Homo sapiens: one gene and its partners. The protein of the gene in region 2 purifies or fractionates together with the protein of the main gene of each other region. This does not show direct contact. Each region holds a gene or a part of one and is shown on either strand. Other genes may lie near its edges.

Region 1 (3,500 bases), on a different chromosome or scaffold from region 2:
GACTTTCAGGAACCAGAATCCCCCTACCCAATGGTATAGGCTTGATGAGGCCAAGAGCCCTAAGGTAGCTTGTGAACTTAACAAGTTTCTGAAAATGCTCTGGTAGAAGCTTAACCTGGAAAGTGTGTTTCCAACAAGCTTTTCTGAGAAAGGTGGTAGGTGTTTAACGTGTCGGGGGTAGGGGGATCTTTTTCCATGGTCAAGTTAAGTCTAGAAAATGCTGCAAATGACAGCTCCTGCACACTTTCTTGAAATGCTCTCATTGGCAGCTGGCCAATGAATGTTCCACAGAACCTAGTATGGCTTTTCAAATTGCTCTAAGATCATGTTTCCTAAATATTTGTGTCATGGGCCAACGTGGATACACAGGTAATAGTGAAATTCTACCTTCTAGAGAAATGTTAAAGAAAAGGATAAACAACTGCTTTTCTGAGAAAATCAAACCATGACGTAATTTTAGAGGCCTAACTAGTCATCTGATAATTCTGGTTTAAAACAGCCATGCATGTGTGCACACTCACAGAAGTGTACACATGTACCACCTGGCAAGCAGCTTCCATAAAGGAAAGTCTGATCTAAAAACTCAGTCATATCACATGGCCATTTCTTCTTAGTTAGGACATAAAGATAAACTGTGTGGTGAAATGGCCCAAGGAAGAGGCTTATACCTCTTATGCCTCTCTCAAGAAGCAAAATTAGAAGTGGGCACACACCACTTTTTCCATCCCTGGTGACAACTGTGGTTTTAGTGCACATTCAACAGGGAATAGCCTCTTGAACAAACAAACATTCTTAAGAAAAAATGGAAGACCCACTGGGAAATGATTTTAACTGAACAAATTCTGTACCATGGATGTTAAAGACTGTTCACATTCAGAATAGGTCTCAGGATTGGTAATCCTGTTGGTACAAAAACCCAGAGTACACAGTTCTCTCATTTTAGAAGAAGGCTCATGGCTTGGGGCCAGTGTAAAAAAGCATCCATATAGTTTCTTCCAAATAAGCTTGGGCTGATTAAACTGAAATGCTATACAGAAAGAGTCCTTTAGAAGCCAATACCCCTCATTTTAGTGACAGCGACATCAAAGAAATGCTGATAAATGCCCTAATATTCCAGTTAAAGAAACTTAATTCAGAGGCTATATAGAGGCCTTCAGAAAATAAAAGGCAAAATTATAGCTGAAGTGGCTCAACTGCTAGCATATGAGTACTTCACACTCACAATACTCAAAAGCATGATTCACCAAGCAATGCTCTTTAAGAATGACAATAGGTGACTCTTATATGCTGAATCCAGCCAAGCCTGCCAATGCTTATGGAATGGTCTGTAACTACATGAACATAAATACAACCAAAAAACAACACTGTTCAAACACATTCTCAAGAACCTCATTCAAATACATAATTTGCCAAATATAAAGAAGTCCCACAAATCACTATTAAAAATGCTACATGCATTTCTACTTGACCCTTAAATCCTTCCTGCAACCCAACAAAAATGTAATTCAAATTTCACAAATAACTTACCTTTGATAAGCTGCTGCACTAATGCACTGTTGGGGCCCTTGTCAGTGCTGTGCACGATACAGTTAGCTATCCTCGTTAGGTGTCCCATGTAACCATGCCGTCTTCCTCCCTCAGCCCTGACAAGAGGTAAAGGACAAATACTCAGATTCCTGATAGGATGAAGTGATGAAACACTCGGTAAATACTGCGGACTTTTAAACAATCATTTTAAACCCTGAAGGCACTGAAGAAAATGACGATGGACAGAAAAGAAAAGAAAAACAAAGGAATGGAAGGTGCCAGAATATGACCATGCAGCATGGTCAGGGAGGGGTGTGAAATTGTAAAAGATTATATGGCAGCCTCAGTCAACAGGCCACAGTTTATTCGAATCTCAAAAATCATCACTCACTGTCAATAACACATTATTTTTTAAAAGATCAAATAAACCTTCTCTGATGCCTAATGTTATTGTGATTTTATTTTACATCTTTTTAATGAAACTTTTTCAAACCTTAATCAGATTATAAGGAACTGAGGTAAGAATTCTGCTGGTTCATTTTCTTAAAAGATAGCAAATTTTTATTATATCAATGAATAGAAATAATTATCTACCAATGACATGTCTCAAGTTAAGATATTAGCTGATGTGAGACTTGGCCAAGATAGGAGACAGTCAACTAGTACTTGACCATACACCATTCTGAACACATGCAAACAAACAGTCTTTGTCCTTTTCCCATTTAAGGTCTCATCTTCCCAACCATGATCAATCTTTACACTTAATTCGTATCAGGCCAGGCACAGTGGCTCACGCCTGTAATCCCAACACTTTGGGAGGCCAACACAGGTGGATCACTTGAGGTCAGGAGTTTGAGACCATCCTGGGCAACATGGCAAAACCCCATCTCTACTAAAAATACAAAAATTAGCCAGGCGTGGTGGTGCACACTTGAAATCCTAGCTACTCAGGAGGCTGAGGCAGGAAAATTTCTTGAACCCGGTAGGCAGAGACTGCAGTGAGCCAGGATTGTGCTACTGCACTCCAACCTGGGTGACAAAATAAGACTCCGTCTCAAAAAAAAAAAAATTATATATATATATATATATATATATATATATATATATATAAAATAAGTAAACTCATATTAATCTGATTTCTCTACCTATTTACAAAGTGCCAAGATTTTAAGCTCTATCAAACGAAAGATTTTTGACTGCAGATAGCAGGGAACAAACACTGCAGAGATTTTTGCTTAGAGAGAGAAAAGCCTTTCAGGAGCAATAAGAAAAAAAAAACATCCTATGCTTGAAGGCTTGCTTGGAAAATAAAGTATCTGCTAGAGAATCTTAGAGGGCTTGGGGGTGCCTAAGGGTAAGAAGTACAGGGTTGATTATTTAGGTAGAGACAAGGTCTTGCTTGTCATCCAGGCTGGAGTGCAGTGGTGCAATCACAGCTCATTGCAGCTTCAAACTCCTGGGCTCAGGCAATTCTCTCACTTCGGCCTCTTGAGTAGCTGGGACTATAGGCAAGTACCACCACATCCGGCTAATTTTTTGTAGAGCCAGGATCTCCCTATGTTGTCCAGACTGGTCTCGAACCCCTGGCCTCAACCAATCCTCCCATCTCAGCCTCCCAAAGCAGTGGGATTACAGGCATCTCCCACCGTGCCTGGCCAGAGTCAATCTTCACTGAGTTGCTCAGAGTCTCTTTTAGTTCTTCAGTAAGATCCAGAGAGCCAGGTGTTACCTACAGGCAACTGAGTCACTCTTCTGCACACCCTCAAGTACACAAGTGAAAGAAAACAAAGGCCCATCTCTAAGGTGACCCACAGCTTCAAACTGCTTCAGGCTGTTGTGCAAGGAAACAAGGAAAGTTCTTTCGGGATCCCCCTAGACAGAGGGAATGGTATTCACCAGGCCTCCAGAAAACGGGACTCACCAGGAGAGCAGGGCACAAAGGATATCTGAGCCCTGGCCAGATGAGGAGGCAG
Region 2 (3,500 bases):
TAGAGACAAGTTTGGTTCCGGCCAGCTCCATCCTGTATAAAAGTGCAGGAAGTCAAAATGCTTGCAGGAAGGGAAAGTTCAGTTGATGGCAATAACATCTTTGTGCCCTTATTAGTCATCAGCGCCCAGATAAGGCAGATAGGGCAGACCTATCTCCATGAATTAATCTTTAGAAGTAGGATGTGGGAAATGATATAAAGGGAGCCTTCCGCCCTATAGAACAGAAGTAAGACAACAGTTGGATTCTGAAAGCCAGACAAGGCCCCAGGACTCCGAGACTGATTCAAACCTCACACACTCAGTGGTGGAGGCCAGACACACACTGTTCAACTACCAACTACTGTTGTCTGCATAGACCCACAAGCACCTCAGGATAAGGACTTGAACCAGGTGGCAAGCAGGTGTACACAGAACACTGTCAGGCAAAAGGCTACTCAGAAACTATTTTATGTCCTGCTTTTCATCTTTTGTTCAAAATCTAAGATCCTTACAAGTACAGAGAACAATTAACTTCCTTCTAGAATGAGGACAAAAGTATGAAGACAGTCATTTAAATACGAATAAAAGGAACACTAATATTCTTCAGATTCCAGACAGCAAAAAGCACCATTGAAGAGGTCATTTTAGTTGTAATATGGGTCAGTTCACGATGATTCTGAGATACCTTTGAAACCTAAGACCATATTGAATGCAGTTTTAAGTATATTTTGTTGTGCAATAATTCCTTAAAGATTGCTAATCTAAATACATAAGTAGGTTAACAGGAGCCTCATTTTCAATAATGTATAAATGACTTTTCCCCATTGTTTTATATAAATACAAAACCTACGGAATCCATAAACTCAAAAGGATGAGGATTCTAACTTATCCAAAAAAAGCTCTGATAATTTCATGAGTAGATCCAGAAGAGGCTGCCAAGAGACGCTAGAGAAGCAGAAGATCTTCGCCAGCCTTCCGAAGCAAGGTCGTCAGCCATACTCTCCTCAAAGCATCACTGGGTACCATCCTCAGGAAAAGAATACTGGGCTTCATGAGACATTGGTTTGATAAAACACCTGAGTTACTGTGAGGACATTTGAAGGTGAAATGAGGATTCAAAGAGTAAGTGGAGAAAAGGACCAGAGTTGACTGTATGGGACTTAATTGTCAAACTGTCTGATAAATATGTAAAATTATGAAAGAATATCTGATTTACAGTAAGACTGTGTAATAACATTTATTAAACACAACACGTGCCAGGCATTAATCTAGGCAGTGGTGGACAGAGGATAGATGGTCCTCGCCCTCATGATCTCTGCACTCTTGGGGACTTAAAACAACTAACAGGTAAACAATCAGTCATTTCAGGTGGTGGTAAGTGCTATGAAGAGAATAAACCAGGATGATGTGATTACAGCTGGTGGGAAGAAAGGGGAACTACTTTAGATGGGTGGTCAGAAAAGGCCTCTCAGGAGGTAACTTCAGTACGGAGAGCCATGCGATGAGGAGTCAGTCATGCAAAAATTCAGAAGATGTTTCAGGCTGGGTATATAGCAAGTACAAGGGCTGCCAGAGGAAGGAGAGAGGCACCTGGGAGGAAACAGAGAAGCCAGTGTGGTGATGGAAGCAGCTTAGGGAGGAAAAGGGAGAGTGAGGTAAGATGAGGTCAGAGAGGCAGGCAGGAGTCAGTGATGCAGGGCCACATAGGAATTTAGACTTTAGGCCCGGTGCAGTGGCTCACACCTGTTATCCCAGCACTTTAGAAGGCAGAGGCAGGAGGACTGCTTGAGGCCAGGAGTTTGAGACCAGTCTGGGCAACACAGCAAGACCCTGGCTCTACAAAAAATATAAAAATTAGCTGGGCATGGTAGTGCATGCCCGTAGTCCCAGCTACTTAAGAGGCTGAGGTGGGAGGATTGTTTGTGCCCAGAAGTTCGAGGCTGCAGTGAGCTATGACTGCACCACTGCAATCTAGCCTAGGCAAGAAGAGTGAGAACTTGTCTCCAAAAAAAAAAAAAAGAAGTTTTTATTAACTGCCATCTTTATACTGCTAACTATAGTACAAAAGACAACCATAATCCGTGCTTAATTGAAAAAGTCCCAAACAAGAAACCACACTACTCAAAATGTGTCATGTGTCTCTATGCTAATTAGAATGTAAAATGAATCCTTAAGATCGAAGCAAAGACAGTGGCTGGTCAAGTTAAGGCCATGCAACAGTCTTTAAGCAGCAGCCAACTTCATGCCTTCATGTGGGCAAACATGTTACTCTACTCACCCCAAGCAGAACCCTTTTCATTAAAACCCTAAAGAATCATTTACTTTCCTGGTTCCATGCACAGTTGCTCTGAAACGACAATTCTGATAATTCTGTGGCTAACAATGGAAATTGTTTTGCTTTCAGTGAAGCAATGACATATTTATTCTCACACCTGTAATCCCACCCCTTTGGGAGGCTGAAGTGGGCGGATCACTTGAGGTCAAGAGTTCAAGATCAGCCTGGCCAACATGGTGAAATCCCGTCTCTACTAGAAATACAAAAATTAGCCGGGCGTGGTGGTGGGTGCCTGTAAACCCAGCTACTTGGGAGGCTGAGACAGGGGAATCTCTTGAACTCAGGAGAAGGAGGTTGCAGTGGGCCGAGATCGCGCCACTGCACTCCAGCCTGGGTGACAGAGCAAGACTCCAACTCAAAAAAAAAAAAAAAATTATTCTTCCCCTACCTTTCATCATAGTTTCTTCTTTCACTTGCCTGTGGTTTTGGCCAAATGTCACTTTTCTTAGAGTAAATGATTTTTTTTTTTTTTTTTTGAGATGGAGTCTTGCTCTGTCACCCAGGCTAGAGTGCGGTGGCACAATCTCAGCTCACTGCAACCTCCACCTCCTGGGTTCAAGTGATTCTCCCACCTCAGCCTCCCGAGTAGCTGGGACTACAGGCACGCACCACCATGCCCGGCCAATTTTTGTATTTTAGGGTTTCGCCATGCTGGCCAGGCTGGTCCTGAACTCCTGACCTCGTGATCTGTCCACCTCGGCCTCCCAAAGTGCTAGGATTACAGGCGTGAGCCACCGCGCCCGGCCATGAATTATTTTTAAAAGAGCAGCTTATGCTTCTGTGAAGAACAGTGTGTCCACCACACTATAATGATGTTTAAATAAAATCAAGAAAGTGATAAGAACAGTGTCCTGGCAAAATAAAAAATAAAAACAGAGTCCCACAGATACCTGGAACAAATACAATGAAATGTTAAAGACGATGCTACTATATAAAAGAGCATTTCAAAGATGCCTGAAAAATTCCACTATAAATCTAAATCATGTTGTAAATGCTATATACAATCCTTTGACCTGAGTGAGATTGGTGGGGGTTAACCACTATTTATTTTGCCAACTATGGCAGCAATCTGTAATCTTTTTTAGGTTAGAGCTCTTTCCACAAAAATGAAGATATTATACACAAAGTTTTACATGTAAATTAAGGAGTTCCATGATGTCACTGGCATCCCCGAATGTCACCTGCA
Region 3 (3,500 bases), on a different chromosome or scaffold from region 2:
GTGATAACAGGCACATGCAGTGAGTGAATCTGGATTGAGTCCTGGATGGGGTTGGGGTGGGTCGCCAGAAAGGACATTTTGGGCAACTGGGAAAATGTTAGTATAGACTTTATAATAGATGACACTACTGAATTAATGTTATTTTCTTAGGTGTGGCAACAGTAGAGGAATTATGTAACAGAATGTCCTTATTCATAGGGAATAAATGCTGAAGTATTGAGGAGGGAAGTGTCATAACGTCTGCAACTTACTTTCATATGGCTCAAAAAAAGTGCACACATAGATAAAGCAGACATGGCAAATGTTAGCAATCGGTGAATCTAGGGGAGTGGCAATTGGATAGTTATTATGTTAGTCTTTCAACTTTTCTGTATACGTGAAAATTTTCAAATAAAAAGACGTGTGTGTGTGAGGGGGTAGTTAAAAAAATCAAGGTTAAAAAAAGAACACTGGACATGCAGAAGATCTGCGGTCTAGACTGGGTTCTGTAATTAACAGTGAACTTGAGTTGCTTGATAATTTTTTTTTTGAGACATGGTCTTACTTTGTCGCTGAGGCTGGGGTGCAATGGCATGATCATGGCTCACTACAGCCTCGACCTCCTGGGCTCAAGTGATCCTCCCACCTCAGCCTCCCGAGTAGCTGGGACGACAGTGGCATGCCACCATGCCCAGCTAACTTTTTTTTGTAGAGACAGGTTCTTGCTACGTTGCCCAGGCTGGTCTTGAACTCCTAGGCTCGAGTGATCCTCCCACCTCGGTCTCCCAAAGTGTTGGGATTTCAGGTGTGAGCCACCATGTCAGCCCATAATATTTTCAATAACAACAGTGATCACAACAGCAAGGACAGCTACCTCCTTATATATGATGTGTGAGTCACCTCTGAGCACTTTACATATATTAACTTGATTGAATCGCCACGACCTTCCAATGGATATTATCATTATTTCCATTTTTTAAATGAGGAAACTAAGGGACAGAGAGTTCCAGTAATTGGCCCAGGCCACACAGCTGGTAAGAGGCAGTCAGATTTGAACATGGGCACGAATACTTTTACGAGATCAAAAGAGAAAGCACCTTATAGAGTATAAAACACTATGAAGATGCATTGTTTTATTATTTTTAGCTTATCAAAATAGTAAGGTTGTAACTGTAAAACAGGGTAACATCTAAAACAAGTAAAACCAGGGCCCCTGGCGCCGGCCACTGCGGCCACCAGGTGGCAGCGCGGCGCACCCGGCGCCCGAGCTGCGAAAGGGACGCCCTTCTCCTCCCGCGCGGAACTTCAGGAGTGCGGGGCCCGAGTGTAAACTGGACCACCGTGGGGCCGCGCGGGCCCCTGGGCATCACCACAAACTGTGCCTGTGGCCATCGTGTCAGGACAGCAGGACCCCTGCACATCCGCGCCGGCCGTTACCTCCTCGGCTCCGGTGACCGAGTACGCGTGCCCCTTCACCAGCTTCTGAAACGTGATGGCCTCCGAGTCCGCGGCGCTGGTGATCTGCAAACACAGCAACCGTCAGACTGGCCGCACCCGCTCTCCCTTCCTCCCGGACTCCCTCGCTCCCTCTGTCCTACTGCCGGGCGGGACCGCCGGACGCACTAGCGCAGCGGCCGAGGCCTGGGGTGGGAGGCTCAGGGCTGCGCTTTCTTGCACTTGGAGAACCTTTCCTACCCCGTTCAAATGCTTGAACGCCGAGAATACCAGAGAAAAGGCGGAATGCAACCCTCTCGCGGAACGAGCACAGGCATTCCCGTGTGAATAGCGCATCCACGGATTTCTGCAGGCTGGGAAGGGCGGGAAAGGGCGCACGGCCGAGAGAGGGCTGGAGGGGGTCCTCGATGGCGCAGGGAAAGGGCGCACGGCCGAGAGAGGGCCGGAGGGGGTCCTCGATGGCGCAGGGCTGATACCCAGACAGCCTTGAGTGGCCCAGGGACACTGAGCACACCCTCGCCCCACCACCAGCCCATGCTCCGTGGTCTGGCCCAGCCCAGCTGTAGGGTTTATACTAGGACGGTTGTTTATTCCGGTCTGAGTCAGAATTTGCTTCTGTTTTAAGAACGCCTCACAGCCTCTCCTTTCCCCTATCTATTCTGATGAAGGTTGAGCCTGGGAAGAAGGGCTGGAGCAGAAAGGGTCTTCTGCCTCAACGTGTTCTGCTGATAAACTTTGAGAATTCCTGCCTAGGGAGTCTGACCTAGATTTTGGCTCCAAAAGCCAGGGCTTCTTATCTCTGTCCCCCGCAGAGACCAGAACCTGGATGGGACAGGGCTCAGAGGTTGGGCACAGCCTTTGCTCCAAGGCTCCTGGGCACAGTGCCCACCTCCCATCCCCTGGTGAGCGTTGCCAGCAAGGCTATTATGAGGAAATCTTTCCTCCTCTTCCTTCCGAAGTCTCCCACGGGCCTATTAGCTCTGCAAGAGTGCAGGGGAAGGCTGCACAGCACTGCAGATGGAGGGGAAGGTGGCAGGGGCAGCAGGTGGCAGGGGCTCCCAGGGAACCTGTGGTCAGAGGGGTGGGGGTGATTCAGAGCAGGCTAAGAGTGGGAAGTGGACTGAAGACAGAAGGGCTGGAGGCACCATCACCCCATCCATTACACCCCAGACAGCTTGACTTTTGCCTAGCAACCCTTGGCTTCCAGGTGATGAGCAATAATGGTAGACACTGGGGTGCTCAGAAACCAATACCTCTAAGAGATGGCACTTTGAAATGCTAAACTGAAGAAGCCTCAAGATCTCTCTGACCTCCCCTTTCCTTCTGTCTCTCGATCCACTCTCCCCCAAAGCACAGGAGGAAGCTATTCTCTGAAGTTCCCTCACCTGCCTAAAGTCTGGACCTGCCAAAGATGAAAACAATGACGTCTGGTCCTTTCCATGAGTTATTATGAACTGAACTCATATTGCAGGAAGAAAGACAAGTCTGTCAACATGGCTAGACAGACTTGTCACAAACCACTGTCTGCTCTGCAGGCCCAACAGACTTTATCCCAGACCATTTATGTTCTTTAAGCCCAATGAATTCCCCTAAAAATCATTTACGACATCCCTAAAATCATCCGCACCTCCCCATCTCCCTTCCCCTAAGAGGAAGGGAATATAACCCTCTGTATCCCAATGCGTGGTAGGGAAATCTCTTGTGATTCTCCCCTGTCCACATTCATACATTTGTATGCCATTTCTTGTATTAGTCTTCCTTTTGCCAGTTGATTTTCAGCGGACCTTCAGAGGGTGGAGGGAGGTTTTCCTTTGGCCCCTACGTGGACGAGGGCTGCATTACGTTGTACACAGGAGCAGTGGGTTCCCTTGGGCACTGTGGGAGCCTCCCTTCAGCAAGAGCAGATGGGGTGAGGCTAGGGAAGGCAGCCTGGACTTACGTCGATGGAGCAGCCAAGGAGAGAGCCTTTTTGCAGAGCTTTCTGGATGATCTTGAACAGGTTGGGAGGGGGCTTCTTCAACTCATACCACTCAGCAATGCCTCCGGTGAAGTCTTCGAAGCCCTCA
Region 4 (3,500 bases), on a different chromosome or scaffold from region 2:
ACACTGGATACTGGAAGTTTATCACAGTGGCCCAAACCACTGATGGCTGTCCAGTTATTGGGTTTGATTTATTCACATAATCATAACACCAACTGGAATTCTTTAAAACTTTTTAAAAAAGTGTAGATAATAGGAAGATGATCCTTACTACTCATCCATGCAGAGCAAATCACATTTACAACAATCATTTTAGAGTTTCTCTTTCTGGACTTTTCTTCATAGGTTCATAGGTTTTTTTTTTTTAGATGGACTTTCGCTCTTGTTGCCCAGGCTGGAATGCAATGGCACGGTCTCGACTCACTGCAACCTCTGCTTCCTGGGTTCAAGAGATTCTCCTGCCTCAGCCTCCTGAGTAGCTGTGATTACAGGTGCGTGTCACCATGTCTGGCTAATTAGAGACGGGATTTCACCATGTTGGCCAAGCTGGTCTCAAACTCCTGACCCCGTGATCCACCCGCCTCGGCCTCCCAAAGTGCTGGGGTTACAGGCGTGAGCCACCGTGCCGGGCCCTTCATAGGTATGTTTTACATATCATCACAGCATACATATAATTTCCATCCTGTGTTTTTTCCTCATCATACATTTTCCCACATTGCCACATGGCCTCATCAACACCAACTTAATTCTTTCTTGAGACGGAGTTTCTCTCATCACCCACGCTGGACTGCAATGGCATGATCTCAGCTCAGTGTAACCTGTGCCTCCTGGGTTCAAGTGATTCTCCTGCCTCAGCCTCCCAAGTAGCTGGGATTACAGGCACCTGCCACCATGCCTGGGTAATTTTTGTATTTTTAGTAGAGACGGGGTTTCACCATGTTGGCCAGGCTGGTCTCGAACTCCCAACCTCAGGTGATCCACCTGCCTCGGCCTCCCAAAGTGCTGGGATTACAGGCGTGTGCCACTGCGCCCAACCAACTAACTTAATTCTTGTATGATCTGCCATAATTTAACTACTAACTGAAGGACATTTAGCTTTTTTTTTTTTTTTTTTTCTGAGACGTAGTCTCACTGTGTTGCCCAGGCTGGAGTCAGTGGTGCAATCTCAGCTCACTGCAACCTCTGCTTCCTGAGGTCAAGCGATTCTCCTGCCTCAGCCTCCTGAGTAGCTGGGACTACAGGTGCGTGCCACCATGCCTAGCTAATTTTTGTATATTTTCTAGAGATGGGGTTTCACCATATTGGCCAGGCTAGTCTCAAACTCCTGACCTCATGATATGCCCACCTCACCCTCCCAATGTGCTGGGATTACAGGCATGAGCCACCGCGCCCGGCCCATTTCGCTTTTAAGTGTTTACAATTAGGCAGTCCTGGTGGCTCTCACCTGTAATCCAACACTTTGGAAGGCTGAGGCAGAAGGATCACCTAAGGCAGATTGAGACCAGCCGGCACAACATAGTGAGACCTCCCTCTCTACAAATAATAATTAAAAAAAAAAATTAGCAAGGTGTGGTGGTGTACACCTGTAGTCTCACTCCTCAGAAGGATGGGGTGGGAGATTACTTAAGCCTAGAAGATCCAAGCTGCAGTGAGCTAAGTCACACCATTGCACTCCACCCTGGGTGACAGAATAAAACTCCGTATTAAAAAAAAAAGTTTTCATAATTATAAGTTAGGCTGTGATGTTTTCTTTCTTTTTTAACGAGACAGGGTCGGCCGGGCATGGTGACTCATGCCTGTAATCCCAGCACTTTGGGAGGCCGAGGCAGGCGGATCACGAGGTTAAGAGATCGAGACCATCCTAAGCAGTATGATGAAACCCCCGTCTCTACTAAAAATACAAAAATTAGCTGGGCGTGGTTGTGCGCGCCTGTAGTCCCAGCTACTCAGGAGGCTGAGGCAGGTGAATCGCTTGAACCTGGGAGGCAGAGGTTGCAGTGAGCCGAGATAGCACCACTGCACTCCAGCCTGGCGACAGAGGAAGACTCTGCCTCAAAAAAAAAAAAAAAGAAAAAAAAAAAAGAAAAGAAAAAAGAGACAGGGTCTCGGCCAGGCACAGTGGCCTGTAATCCCAGCACTTTGGGAGGCCAAAGGTGGGTGGATCACCTGAGCACGGGCGTTCAAGACCAGCCTGACCAACAGGGAGAAACCCTGTCTCTATTAAAATACAAAATTAGCCAGGCGTGATGGCACATGCCTGTAATCCCAGTTACTCTGGAGGCTGAGACAGGAGAATCACTTGAACCCAGGAGGCAGAGATTGTGGTGAGCCGAGATCACACCATTGCACTCCAGCCTGGGCAACAAGAATGAAAATCCGTCTCAAACAAACAAACAAACAAAAAAGACAGGGTCTTAGCCTGGCACCCAGACTGGAATGCAGTGGTACAATCACAGCTCACTGCAACCTTGAACTCGTGGGCTCAAGCGATCCTCCCACCTGAGCTTTCCAAAGTGCTGGGATTAATTACAACCACCGTGCCTGGACTGGATATGATGTTTTCTGTTTTGGATAATCTCCTTAGGATAAATTTCCAGATATGTAGAGGCAATAGGTAACACAAATTTTATAGCCCTTGATGAGTACGAATAACTTTATAGAAGTCTGTGCTTCATAATACAAAGTTTAAGCAACCTTCTAAGAAGTGGGCATAAACAGAGTCTCATTTAACTAGATTTCTATTTACTAATGAGAGGAACCGTCTTTTCTCTAGGTTTGCTTATTGATTTCTTCTTCTGTAAAGTGTTGTTCATCTCCTCTGACTATTTACTCTAGGGGCTTAAGTATTTCTTACCAAGTGTATTTTTCTATTTACAATCCTAACATTTACATTTCTTTAAAAAAGTTTTAAAAACACTACGATGTTAACAGTAGTGTGACTGATTTTGTTCAATTTCTTTGTAACTGTGGTTGTAAGACTTTTTATTTTGAGATTTGTTAAAAAAGGAGAAGCCTAATACATGCATACACATATGCCTAGAAATGTATGCAGTCGTAGATACACGGCTGAATTATGCAGTCGCAGATACACGGTCGAATTAATCAATCTCTGTAAGGCAAGATTACAGGTGACTACTGTTCTTTGGTTAAACTATCTTTCCTCGTTTTCCATGATTCATGTTTCTTACTTGTATAATAAAAGTTACAAAAAGTTACCAAAGAAGACCACATTCCAAGAATACTTGAACAGATGTAAAACAATTAAATGTCTCATCTAGGAACCAATCTTTCATTGGCCTATTTTCAATCCACTTCTTTTTGCCACAATTTAATTATGGCTTCATTCCCATGTTTATTCTAATTTTCATATAACAGAGATTCATCTCCAGAAGGAAAAAATTGGCAGTCTTGCAGAATTTCTAAAAATTCTGAAATAATATCTGAGCTTAGACTTACTTGTTTAAAGGCCACTACTGCTCTAAATGGAAATCTGGAGCACCACAAAATGCTCTTATCCATCAGGCTGGTGGCGCTGTGTCTGGTACACGTATATTTTTGTTTTGGTTGAAATGTGTTAGAGGACGGTCTTCGGCAACTAAAGGGATACCACAAAGAAACATACT
Region 5 (4,300 bases), on a different chromosome or scaffold from region 2:
AATCTCTTTAACAGGCTTTACAATAATGAAGAAGCAATGTTTTCTCATTTATTTAATAAATAGTTATGTGTCATTTAACACACGCCAAATATTGTTCTAAGCCTTTTACAAAATGTTAATTTAATTTTCTCATGGTTATTTCTTTTAATAATACTACATAAAATCTGGCACAGTCCTGAGTGAGTGCTAGCATACCAGGTGGACTGCTGACTGAGGGATGACCTATGCTTTGCAGGCTAAGCATTAGAAAGGATAACAGGATCAACTGGGAGCTTACCTCCCAGGATAAGAGAAATGTTTGTCACATAAAGGCAAAATGAAAGGAGCCAAAGAGGGAAAGCTACATTTGGAAACCAGATCATTAAGGAAATAGAAACTTTAACCAAATTAAAAAACTTTCTTCACAACCTTGAGGCCCTTGCTAAAAGGTGATTTTTTATTAAAAAGGCAATGAAACCAGAAACTTCTGGACAAGTGAATCACAGAAGAAGCTCAATTTCCTGTTTGACAAAAGAGGAAAAAAAAGAGAGGCACTAGAGCCACTGCAGAGACACAGACCTGAAGACATAATTTTACTAGAATGCAGTTCCCATCTTGTAGCCTTTAAGATGAACTTTTAAACGGTTGTGACTGCATTTTGCAATTCTGTACCTTGGGCACTTGCATGTAAACTCGTTACTTCCTTGGTAAACCGGATGATGTTAAAGTAAAAGTGAGTCCCAGATGAGATTAAATTATCATTCTAGTCCCTAAAACATGAGAGAAGTACAAATTTAACAGAAGTATAGCTTTTTAGAACTTGAAAGGATTTAAGTCATCTAACCCAAGATATTAAATAACCTGTCCATGGTCAGGACGCTATTTTGTGGCACAAAACCAACATCACAAAATACCACAAATTTCGCCCATCATCAAGTGATTTTTTTCAAATAATCTTTTTCAGTCTGGGAGAAGAACTTTAGAAAAGTTTCTGGAAGGTCCCAACTTCAATTACAGGAAAACATCAAGCAGGCGTGAGATTGAAATTATAACAATGTTCTCACTTTCAGTTTGACTTAAGGAACTCTAGAGCTGGAAATAGCAGCAGAAATAAAAGGGAAGCAAAACAGGTTAGAGTGTCAGCGTACAAAGCCAGAAAAAGAGTAAGGTATAATGAAAGCAGATCCGTAAATTTTTACCCATTTTGGGAAAACAAAGTGGTCCATTTGTATTACACAAGACAAAAATATATAGGAGACTGCTTTGCATATTGTTTAAGAAAAACCAGTTTTGCTTTAAGACTAAACTACTGTGCCGTACACATACAGGATGAGTCAACATCCTATCACAATGAAGTCACAAAACCTACTCAACTCAGATTTTTCACTGAGTTAGTGTATTACGTCACATTTCATCTTGGCTATTTAACTTTTATTTCTAAAAATCTCCCCATCTCACGGAAGACCTGACAAGCCAAAGCTGGTCCCTTATGCAAACAGGTGGTCTATACTGCGTGCCCCATCTTCTCGGCCACATGACCGGATTCCTCCTAATCTCACTTCTGAAACATTGTTTCCGGTGCCCCAGATGGCTCTACACGTGCCTGAGGTAGCCACTCCCGAAATATAAAGAGCTCTCTGTCACATCTGGCTTCCAACCGGATGATGGCAGAAACCAAGGGAGGGCAGGCAGAGCGGAAACGAGCCAGGAAAAGCGACAAGTCAGGAAGGTAAAGGCTCTGCTGAACGCCCAACTCCTAAATGTCACTCGGTGGAGATGTTCGTGCAGCATCGCCCACGAATGGCTGGGGCGGGCGGCCAGGCGCTGCAGCCGCAAGCCAGGGAGCTGAGCACGCAGCGCGGGCAGGGGAGCGGCCTCTCTGGCGCTGGGGACGCCAGGCGAGCCCATCAGGCCCCACCGCGGCCCCACCAGGGCGACCCCCGCCGGGGGCGGAGAAGGGAAGTGGGTGCCTGGCGGAGGGTTGCGGGCGGGGAAGGCGCGGGCGGGGCCGGGCCTAATCACATGGCGCAGACGGCGCAGGCCGCCCGGCACCTCTTTCTTTCTCTTTTCTAGACCCTCGGCTCCTATCCCGCCCCACCGCAGGGCCCCACACAGCCTGAGCCCGGGCCCCGAAAGGAACGAGGCCTCCTGCGCCTCGCGGAGACACTCACTTTTCACCTGAGGCCACCAGCTCTTTGCCCTCGCTGTTGCCAAACGCGTCCGTCTCCCCGGGGCCGTCCTTGGGGCCGGGCGCCGCCGGGGCAGCGGGTGGCGACACCCCGGGCTGCGGATGCGTGCTCCCCTTGCCCAGCTCCTGCAAGATCTCCGAAGGAGAGCTGGACAGGCCCCGCGCGAGGGGCTCCGCCGGCCAGCCGCCCCCGCCCCACCACGGGTGGAGTCGCGCGGCGGCAGCCGGGCCCGCGGCCGGCCGTCCCCCGCCTCGGGGACGCCGGCACAGGGTGACCAAGGGCTGTGCCCGCCGCAGAGTCGCGCTCACGCCGGCGGGCGACCGCAGGAGCAGGTCCCGCAGCATCCCCGAGCCTCGCAGCCGCATCATGCCGCCGGGTCCGTCAGCGCCCGCTCAACAGGGGAGGATGCTCCGGGCGTGGGCGGCCGGTTTCCTCGGGGAACGCGGTCTGTGGTGGGGCGGTGAGATGACAGAAGAGGAAAGGGCAGCTACTTGGGTGTGGTTCCGGCTCGGACTCCCGCAGCGGATGCGGGTGCTGCTGCTGCTGCTGCTGCTGCTGCTGCTGCTGCTGCTGCTGCTGCGCGCTAGGATTGCCGCGACCGGTTCTCTTCGCTCCGCCTAAGGCTCCGCACTGAGGCTAAAGCGCAGGGGAGGGCTAGAGACCTTCAGCGCTCGCCGACGGCCCGCCCCTTTCGCCCGCTGCGATTGGCTCAAATCCTCGACCTCTCTTTTGATTGGCGATTAGGGCAGTCAAATTTCTCTCGGCTCTGGGTGCGCGGAGAGTAGGGCGGGGGATTGGTGGGGGGCGGGGAGAGGAGTCAAACTGACGTGTGAAGCGGGTGAGCCAGGCCCGGCTGCTCAGTAGCCACTTTCTGCACGCCGTGCCAACTCCGAGGCTAGCCTAGTTGGGTACTAGGGGCTCTGGGTTCTCGCATTTATGAAGCAGTGGGCTCCTCCACTCTGGGAATTCGAGCTGTTGGGGAGACTCATGGGCGAGATCCCCCGCAGCCGAGGGCAGTGAGGTCAGCAGGTTTGGCAGGGCTGAGTCTGGCCGAGCTGTCGGAACTCAGCCGATCCCAGCTCGCATCTGGCCCCCAGGTCAGGGCGTCTGGCGACTCCTCCGAGAGCAGCCCCGGACAAGCTTCATCCCTCTCCCAAATGTAACATTTGCTTGAAACTTTCCATGATTGGCTACTACCCAGACGTGAAGTGTTTTGGAAAAAATGAGCAAAATCCTTTCAGCTATGCGACTTAAGCCATGGGAGGGTGGAGGTGGAGGGAGGGCGACGAGTGGCGAGGCGGGGTGGGGGGGTTGCGGAATCCAGAATACGACAGCTTTCTTTTTTAAAAATTATTTTTTTTAAATGTACACCGATACTTCAAAAATAGTTTTGAATAGCAATGATTCCGTTAACGCTATTTGCTTGAAAGCAAAACTGTAGATACTTTTCTATTTTAAAAACTGCTTCACTGTTTTAAAATAGAAGCGTTGGAATACGGGTTCTCTAAGTTATTTCAGCATCACTTTATCCATTTATCCTTTTGGACCTGTGGAAAAACAGCCAAGAACCTGATAAACTGAGTTATTCCCTGAGGCTACATACACATTACATTCCAGGACAAAAAAATGTTTTTAGACTATTTCCTGAAACAATTAGGTTTAAATGGAGTAGATCCACAGAGTTTAATAAGATGTTTTGGGGGTTGGTGTGTTGTTACTGTGTTGTTGTGTGTGTTCGTTTTGAGAAAGGGTCTCACTCTGTCGCCCAGGCTGAAGTGCAGTGGCGCGATCACGGCTTACTGCAGCCTTGAACTCAGGGGCCCCGGTGATCCTCCCACCTCAGCCAGCACCTGCTTTTTTTTTTTTTTTTTTTTGTATTTTTGGTAGAGACGGGGTTTCGCCAGGTTGCCCAGGCTGGTTTCGAGGGATCTGCACCCCCTGGGCCTCCCAAATTGCTGGGATTACAGGCGTGAGCCACCACGCCCGGCCTAATGAGGTGATTTTTATGAAACTAGAAGGGTGTATGTCAGGTGCATCATTAATTGATAACCGGATTTAGTAATCTAGTGAACTGTAAAATATTTCAATAGATTAATAATTAGGAAATCTGGCTGTACCTACAGGTTATGTGA
Region 6 (3,500 bases), on a different chromosome or scaffold from region 2:
GCCATCACTGGAGACCAGCTCACAAACCCTCAGTGGAGCCAGCTGCGTAAAGTGAGAAGTGACAACATTGTGACGGTGGCTAAGAAAGCACCAGTAGAATAAAGTTCTTGGTTTTTTTTTGGGGGGGGGGGTTGTTTGTTTGTTTGTTGTTGTTTTTTTTTGAGACAGAGTTTTGTTCTTGTTGCTCAAGCTGGAGTGCAGTGGCGTGATCTCGGCTCACTACAACCCCAGCCTCCTGGGTTCAAGCGATTCTCCTGCCTCAGCCTCCTGAGTAGCTGGGATTACAGGCGCGAGCCACCACGCCCAGCTAATTTTTTGTATTTTTAGTAGAGATGGGATTTCATCATGTCGGCCAGGCTGGTCTCAAACTCCTGACCTCAGGTGATCCACCCGCCTCGGTCTCCCAAAATGCAGGGATCACAGGTGTGAGCCACTGTGCCTGGCCGAATAAAGTTTATTTTAAATTCTAGCAGCTAGGCATAGTGGCTCACGCCTGTAATCCCAAAGCTTTGGGAGGTCAAGGTGGGAGGATTGCTTGAGCCCAGGAGTTTGAGACCAGCCTGAGGAACATAGGGAGATCCTGTCTTCCCAATAAAAAAAAAATTCTTTTTTTAATTGGTCAGGCATGGTAGCTCACCCCTGTAATCCCAGCACTTTGGGAGGCCGAAGCGGGCAGTTCACCTGAGGTCAGGAGTTCAAGACCAGCCTGATCAACATGGTGAAACCCCGTCTCTACTAAAAATACAAAATTAGCTGGGCATGGTGGCACATGCCTGTAATCCCAGCTACTCGCGAGGCTGAGGCAGGAGAATCAGAAGGCAGAAACTGCGATGAGCTGAGATTGTGCCATTGTACTCCAGCCTGGGCAACAAGAGTGAAACTCCATCTCAAAAAATAAAAAACTAAAATTAATTAACCGGGTGTGGTAGCACATCCCAACCTACTCAGGAGACTGAAGTGGGAGGACAGCTTGAGCCCAGGAGGTCGAGACTGCAATGATCCCTGATAGCGCAACTGAACTCCAACCTAGACAACAGAGCAAGACCTTGCCTCAAAATTCAAATTCCTAGGCTCAAGTAATCTGACCGTCTCGGATTCCCAAAGTAAAATGTGCATCTTCTATGTGTAAAGTAAACATGGCAAAATGTTAACAGCAAATCTAGGTGAAGGGTATATGAATGTTTACTGAACAACCCTTCTGTAGGCTTACAATTTTTCAAAGAGTTGCAAAAACAATATTTAGAAGTTATGGATTACAAAAAAACAAAGCCTGCCGGGTACAGTGGCTCATGCCTGTAATCCCAGCCCTTTGGGGAGGCCGAGGCAGGCGGATCACAGGAGTTCAAGACCAGGCTTGCCAACATGGTGAAACCCCATCTCCACTAAAAATACAAAAAATTAGCCAGGTGTGGTGGCACGTGCCCATAGTACCAGTTACTCAGGAGGCTGAGGCAGGAGAATCTCTTGAACCCAGGAGGGGGAAGTTGCAGTGACTTGAGATGGCGCCACTGCACTCCAGCCTGGACCACAGAGCAAGACTCTGTCTCAAAAAACAAACAAAAAGAAAAAAACAAAACGAACAGCAGAAAATAGGGAAAGATACAAATAATAATTTAGCACGTATATTCTGCCTCCCAGAATTAGCTGTTGTCACAGTAGTGTCTAGTCTCAAAAAAAAAGTATAGATATCCTCAAAAGAAATTATAGATAACGGGCTGCGCGCGGTGGCTCACGCCTGTAATCCCAGCACTTTGGGAGGCCGAGGCAGGTGGATCACAAGGTCAGGAGATCAAGACCATCCTGGATAACATGGTGAAACCCCGTCTCTACTGAAAATACAAAAAATTAGCTGGGCATGGTGGCGGGCGCCTGTAGTCCCAGCTACTTGGGAGGCTGAGGCAGGAGAATGGCGTGAACTCGGGAGGCAGAGCTTGCAGTGAGCCAAGATCACGCCACTGCACTCCAGCCTGGGCGACAGAGCGAGACTCCGTCTAAAAAAAAAAAAATAAAATAAAATAAAATAAAATAAAAATTAGCCGGGCATAGTGGTGCATGCCTATAATCCCAGCTGCTCGGGAAGCTGAGGCAGGAGAAATGCTGGAACCCGGGAGACGGAGATTGCAGTGAGCCGAGATCGCGCATTTGCACTCCAGCCTGGGCAACAAGAGCAAAACTCCACCTCAAAAAAAAAAAAAAAATTATAGATATCATCCCCTTTGCCACTACCTCCCATTCATAATCCCTTATAGACGTGAAATTATAGAGTACGCCTATCTTCAACTTTACTAAGGGCTGCAAATACTGTCTTCAAAAGCAGCTATACCAGTTTACACTCAACCAACAGTTTTTTTTTCCTCCTCCTAACAGTAACCGGTAGCAGTTTCTTTTTTTTTTTTTTTTTATAAATTTTTTCTTTTTTAATAGAGACAGGGGTCTCACTTTGAGGCCCAGGCTGGTCTTGAACTCCCGGGTTCAAGGACTCAAGTGGCCCTCAAACTCCAAAAGTGCTAAAATTATAGGCATGAGCTACCACGCCTGGCCAGTAGTTTCAAAATTACCATTTTTGCCACATCTTCACCAACATTTGATATCGTCAGACATGAAATTTTTTTTTTGGCCGGGCGCGGTGGCTCACACTTGTAATCCCAGCACTATGGGAGGCCGAGGTGGGCAGATCACGAGGTCAGGAGTTCAAGACCAGCCTGGCCAATATGGTGAAACCCCGTCTCTACAAAAAAATACAAAAATTAGCCAGCCATCGTGGCACCCGCCTGTAGTCCCAGCCCAGGAGGGAGACTGAGGCAGGAGAATCGCTGGAACCCGGGAGGCAGAGGTTTCAGTGAGCCAAGATTACACCACTGCACTCCAGCCTGGGAGACAAGTAAGACTCCCTCTCAGAAAGAAGAACAGAAAAAGAAACAATGCCAGGTGTGGTGGTGCCGACCTATAGTCCTAGCTACTTGGTAAGGCTGAGGCAGGAGGATCACTCAAGTCCAGGAGTTCAAGTCCAGCCTGGGCAATGCAGCAAGACCTTGTTTCAAAAAAAAAGAAGGAAGAAGAAAGAAGGAAGAAGAATGAAGAGAAATAAAACAACCTAGGATCACACAGTAAAAGGTAAAAGAACCTCAGCAAAACAAGAACTTCACTTACAGACTTTCCCTTTTATTACCTCATACAAAATGATGAATAATCAAACCTATATGGCAGCATGTACTAAGAATGATTAGTCCCCATATGAAACCAAATGCTCACAAAAGCACAACATAGTGCTGGGAAATAATTTTTTGTCTTTTAAAAAATGTAAGATGGCCAGGCGCGGTGGCTCACGCCAATAATCCTAGCACTCTGGGGGGCCAAGGCGGGCAGATCACTTAAGGTCAGGAGGTTCGAGGCCAGCCTGACCAACATGGTGAAACCCCGTTTCTACTAAAAATACAAAAATTAGCCAGGCATGGTGGCAGCACCTGTAGTCCCAGCTACCTGGGAGGCTGAGGCAGGAG
Region 7 (4,241 bases), on a different chromosome or scaffold from region 2:
ACTGTTGGTCATATATCTTAGTGTCTATGGTCACTAAATGATGTTGATTGAAGTTTATCTACTCTACTTCAGACACAGTTGAGAATACCTGTCTTCCTTGGAACACTAGGAAGAACGATCAGGAGGCTACACAGCAATCAGTATAATTTGCCAGGTAAAAAGATAACAAGTAATGATTCTTACAACCTGTTCCTTCCATAGTAAAATAATCTCACTTTTCCTCGTTACGTGAAAGAATGTTAATGGCTATGATGAGCACAAGACAAGGCAGGATCTCTTGCAGCCAAAAGAACAGAGAACGTAAAAAACCAAGCTCCTATTTCACAGATCAGGACAAAAAAATAAATAAACAAATCCATCAGTGTAGTTGTCTTCCTACTCAGCTTCATTTAGCTTCCTGAAACGGTCAGCTTTAGGGGAACCTCCGAGAGTTGTTGATTTCCATGCCTAGCCAGGCTTGTTGACTTGGGGAAAGCCACAAACCAAAAAGCCAAATGTAAGCACTTGTACAAAATGAGGGCTTACTTCTAGTACTGGTAGTTTTCTCTGGCACTAAATAAGAGAGAGAAACCCACGTCTGATTCCTTTCAACACATGGTCTGAAGCCTCCCTTTACCAAGGTCTTATCCTAAAGTAGGTAGACTTGAGACACACTGACCCGCCAGATGAGACAAAGTTGCAAATCTCAGGTAGTTGTCACCTCCACTCTGCGGCACCCAACTGCTGCCATAAATTTCCATCATGGGCCCTGTCCAAAAAGGAGCTTATTCTAGGGAGAATATAACCAGCCACGGCTCAAGAGGACAAAGCCTCAAATTTCTCAAGACCAAGAAGCACAAGATGGACTCACTTTCTGCCTGCAGAGAGGCTCCTTCTTGTTCTCTTCGGCCTTTGCATCCTGCTGCGCAGCATCTTTGGGTGTGTTTACTGCTAAAACATCATTGATGGTGGAGCCAACCACCATGATCTTGGCCCCACTGGTCACTTTTATTTCTCTCAATGTTTTATCCTCGGGGACGAGTCCCTTATACATGACTTTCTGCATGGCAGGCGGGAGACCTTGGGAAAAGGTAGAAGGTGGACAGTGAAAGGAAGGAAGGACAGAAAAATGTATGGATACTACACAGCTCTTTGGTAACAGACCAAAAAGTGAATACTGCCTCCACCACCTATTAGCTTTGTGAACTTGGGAGATTTACAACCTCTGAACCTCAGTTTCTAGAACTGTAGAAGATTTATTAGAGTAAGTCCTTCTGTACAGACCTGTTTCAAGGATTAAGAGACCAATGCGGGGCATTTAGTACGGTGGCTAGCATTGAATAATTGTTCAGTAAGTACTAGCTCTCATTCTTTCCAAGTTGTTCCTCAGTCATCTAAATCATTCACATATTAAGTGAGAATCCACAGGCATCAGAGCTACAGAAGCCAATAGGGACAAAACTCCTGTTCTTAATGGAGATTACAAGGCTACATGTAGAAAGCTTTAAAAAAAAAAAAAAGTTCAAGGCCAGGAGTGATGGCTTATGCCTGTAATCCCAGCACTTCGGGAGGCCGAGGTGGGTGGATAAAATAAAAAAAACTAGCCCGGCGGGGTAGCGGGCACCTGTAATCCCAGCTACTCGGGAGGCTGAGGCAGGAGAATCGCTTGAACCTGGGAGGCGGAGGCTGCAGTGAGCCAAGATGGTGCCAGTACACTCCAGCCTGGGCAACAGAGCAAGACTCCGTCTCAAAAAAAAAAAAAAATAGGAAAAAGAAAAGAAATCTCAGATGGCAAAGAGCTATGAACAAGGTAAAATTAAGAAACAGAATCGACTGTGAAGAACCAGCATCAAAGTCAATAGCAGCGTTTCCTAAACTTCACTTAGAAGAATTACCTAAGATATTTGCTAAAAATAAATTCCTGGCTACATCCCAGACCCACTGAATCAGAATCTCCTGGGAAAGGGCCCAGAAGCTGTAAAACAAGCGCCTTAGGTGATTTTTTAATTAGAGATGTTAGAGCAACATCAATGAGAAACTGGGGCCTAAACGTCAGACTTCGGCTTTAATCCCAGCTCTGCAACTTACTAGCTCTATAAACTTGAGTCTCTTTCCCCAGCTGAGTAATGGGCATCCAAGTATCCTTCAGAAGACTGCTGTAAGGATGGGGGGACCTGATGCAAGGAAAGCCACCAGGTGCCTAGTAGGGTGCAAGGGCCATCAGGAGGCGGGGTGGGGAAGACTGGCTGTCAGCGCCACAGGAATTACCTGTAATCGAGTGGATCTTCTGTTTCAGCTCGGAGCCTGTGCTGTCCAGGGGGAACTTCACGTCATGCTTGGTCTTATTCCAGATGATCTTCAAGTCCACCAGCTCCCTGCCCGCGCCGCCGCCCGCGTCTTCGCCGTTGCTGACCGAGGCCTGGGCTGCGGGGTCCCCAGGGGGCTGGGCCGGGGCCGGCTGCAGGCTGCCTCGTGCGGCGCCGGAGTCCTCGGCCGCCGCCCCCGCCGCGGCTTCAGCCTCCAGGCAGTTGACGGGCCGCGCGGGAGCCTCAGTAGCCACAGTCTCGGCCTCCGTGTCCATGCCAGGTTCCTCCATGCCTGCAAGGGGGTTAGGGGGTGGGCGCTCGCCGCGGGCTGGGCTTGGGAACGGACGCTGTCCGGGCGCCGCCGGACCTCCGTTCCCGAGCCGCGGTTCTCCCTCCCGGGCCGGGCCGCATCCCCCAGAGGAGCGACCGCAACCTCAGCCCCGGCCCGGCGCCCGCCACCCCCGCCGCACTCACCATCCGGGGCCCCGGCCGCCGCCATGATGATTGTGTACAACACCCACCGCTCCCGCAGAGGCCGCTGGGAAGAGGCGAGCTGGCTGAGATTGGCCCCCGCAGCAGCCCCTAATCTCTCACAGCCCGGCCGGAAACAGGTGGAGGTTTCTATGGAGACCCGCCTCCTCCGCTCCCAGGTCCGGCCCCTGCCACGCTTTCGCTTTCCCAAGCTGAAGGGGGCGGGTCCGGGAAATAGCCCTTTCTCTGGCCTCTGCCCCCTGGTGGCGAGTGCGGCCGCAGCCGTCCAGGGGGGCGTGGGATTTCGCGCTAGGGGGCCTGTGACTTTAAGGGGCAAGGCTGCGCTGGCTGTGGCGGAGGCCGATTGGCTGGAAGCAGTCCCCGGAAGTGACGCAGGGAGAAGCCCACGTGTGCTATTCCATCCCACATGGCGGCGCTCCTGAGGAGACTGCTGCAGCGCGAGAGGCCTTCGGCGGCCTCTGGCCGCCCCGTAGGACGGCGCGAGGCCAACCTGGGCACTGATGCCGGGGTTGCGGTGCGAGTGCGGTTCGCTCCCAGCCCCACAGGTAACCCTGGCGGACGTGACGCTACAGGCCGAGGCCCCCTGTCCCGTCTCCGCCCCACGAATGTTCCCGAATGAATCCTTTCCGGTGGTGTCAGAGTGGGCGGGCGGAGGAGGGTTAAGGCAGCGCGAGCCCATTTTACAGAGGCGGAAACTGAGGTGCAGGAGCGGAAATAATTCAAATTGCCAGGAGTTTCTTGTGTTTTTTGTGCCATCCCATCTCTTTCGATCTTTTTTTCATGCATTCCATACATGTGCATTGATGACAACCTGTGTAACAGGTGTTGTAGACGCTGGGATACAGTGATCATTGAGAAAGGTAGGGGCCTTGCTCTGTGGAAGTCTGCATTCTAGTGGCTGCCGCAGACACTTATAAAAAATAAGTGTAATTTTAGAGTCACATGTGCCATGCGGGAAGTGAAACAGGATAGGAGACTGGGGATTAAGAAGGACGCTCCAGAAGGCTTTACTGAGCAGGTAACATTTGAGCTGAGATCCAAATGACAAGAAGGAGCACGCTATGTGAAGCCTATAGAAGGAACCTTCTGGAGGCCAGGCGCGGTGGCTCACGCTTGTAATCCCAGCACTTTGGGAGGCAGAGGTGGGTGCATCACTTGAGGTCAAGTGGATCACTTGAGAGCCGTCTGACCAACATGGTGAAGCCCTGTCTCTACTAAAAATACAAAATTATCTGGGCATGGTGGCGCATGCCTGTAATCCCAGCTACTTGGGAGGCTGAGGCAGGAGAATCGCTTGAACGCAGGAGGTGGAGATTGCGGTGAGCCAAGATCGCGCCATTGCACTCCAGCCTGGGCAACAAGAGCGAAACTGTGTCTCAAAAACAAAAAAGAAGGAACCTTCTGGGTAGAGGAAATCGCAGGTACCAAGGCACTGTGCTAGTGCTGTTGGGAGCTTAGCAAGCT

The links.
Region 1: the proteins of GNS (region 2) and PPP6R3 fractionate together in Homo sapiens (co-fractionation; one large-scale study listed by BioGRID). This does not show direct contact.
Region 3: the proteins of GNS (region 2) and CAPN2 purify together in Homo sapiens (affinity purification with mass spectrometry; one large-scale study listed by BioGRID and IntAct). This does not show direct contact.
Region 4: the proteins of GNS (region 2) and CAD fractionate together in Homo sapiens (co-fractionation; one large-scale study listed by BioGRID). This does not show direct contact.
Region 5: the proteins of GNS (region 2) and GLS fractionate together in Homo sapiens (co-fractionation; one large-scale study listed by BioGRID). This does not show direct contact.
Region 6: the proteins of GNS (region 2) and GAPVD1 fractionate together in Homo sapiens (co-fractionation; one large-scale study listed by BioGRID). This does not show direct contact.
Region 7: the proteins of GNS (region 2) and UBFD1 fractionate together in Homo sapiens (co-fractionation; one large-scale study listed by BioGRID). This does not show direct contact.

Annotation. Positions count from the first base shown.
Region 1 is NC_000011.10:68,572,252-68,575,751, reverse strand, and holds part of PPP6R3 (serine/threonine-protein phosphatase 6 regulatory subunit 3), read right to left. Parts: intron 1,644-3,500; coding exon 1,528-1,643; intron 1-1,527.
Region 2 is NC_000012.12:64,752,907-64,756,406, forward strand, and holds part of GNS (N-acetylglucosamine-6-sulfatase precursor), read right to left. Parts: intron 1-3,500. UniProt on the Homo sapiens protein: Hydrolyzes 6-sulfate groups in N-acetyl-d-glucosaminide units of heparin sulfate and keratan sulfate.
Region 3 is NC_000001.11:223,747,039-223,750,538, reverse strand, and holds part of CAPN2 (calpain-2 catalytic subunit), read right to left. Parts: coding exon 3,374-3,500; intron 1,501-3,373; coding exon 1,417-1,500; intron 1-1,416. UniProt on the Homo sapiens protein: Calcium-regulated non-lysosomal thiol-protease which catalyzes limited proteolysis of substrates involved in cytoskeletal remodeling and signal transduction. Proteolytically cleaves MYOC at 'Arg-226'.
Region 4 is NC_000002.12:27,227,369-27,230,868, reverse strand, and holds part of CAD (multifunctional protein CAD), read right to left. Parts: intron 1-3,500. UniProt on the Homo sapiens protein: Multifunctional protein that encodes the first 3 enzymatic activities of the de novo pyrimidine pathway: carbamoylphosphate synthetase (CPSase; EC 6.3.5.5), aspartate transcarbamylase (ATCase; EC 2.1.3.2) and dihydroorotase (DHOase; EC 3.5.2.3).
Region 5 is NC_000002.12:190,879,321-190,883,620, reverse strand, and holds the start of GLS (glutaminase kidney isoform, mitochondrial isoform 1 precursor), read right to left. Parts: upstream 2,801-4,300; 5' UTR 2,537-2,800; coding exon 2,151-2,536; exon of another isoform or gene 2,053-2,150; intron 1,709-2,052; exon of another isoform or gene 1,633-1,708; intron 1-1,632. UniProt on the Homo sapiens protein: Catalyzes the first reaction in the primary pathway for the renal catabolism of glutamine. Plays a role in maintaining acid-base homeostasis. Regulates the levels of the neurotransmitter glutamate, the main excitatory neurotransmitter in the brain.
Region 6 is NC_000009.12:125,264,826-125,268,325, reverse strand, and holds part of GAPVD1 (GTPase-activating protein and VPS9 domain-containing protein 1), read right to left. Parts: intron 1-3,500. UniProt on the Homo sapiens protein: Acts both as a GTPase-activating protein (GAP) and a guanine nucleotide exchange factor (GEF), and participates in various processes such as endocytosis, insulin receptor internalization or LC2A4/GLUT4 trafficking.
Region 7 is NC_000016.10:23,556,286-23,560,526, reverse strand, and holds the start of UBFD1 (ubiquitin domain-containing protein UBFD1), read right to left. Parts: upstream 2,801-4,241; 5' UTR 2,785-2,800; coding exon 2,760-2,784; intron 2,578-2,759; coding exon 2,248-2,577; intron 1,060-2,247; coding exon 851-1,059; intron 749-850; exon of another isoform or gene 659-748; intron 1-658. Other genes in the region: EARS2 (nondiscriminating glutamyl-tRNA synthetase EARS2, mitochondrial), read left to right, coding at 3,184-3,322. UniProt on the Homo sapiens protein: May play a role as NF-kappa-B regulator.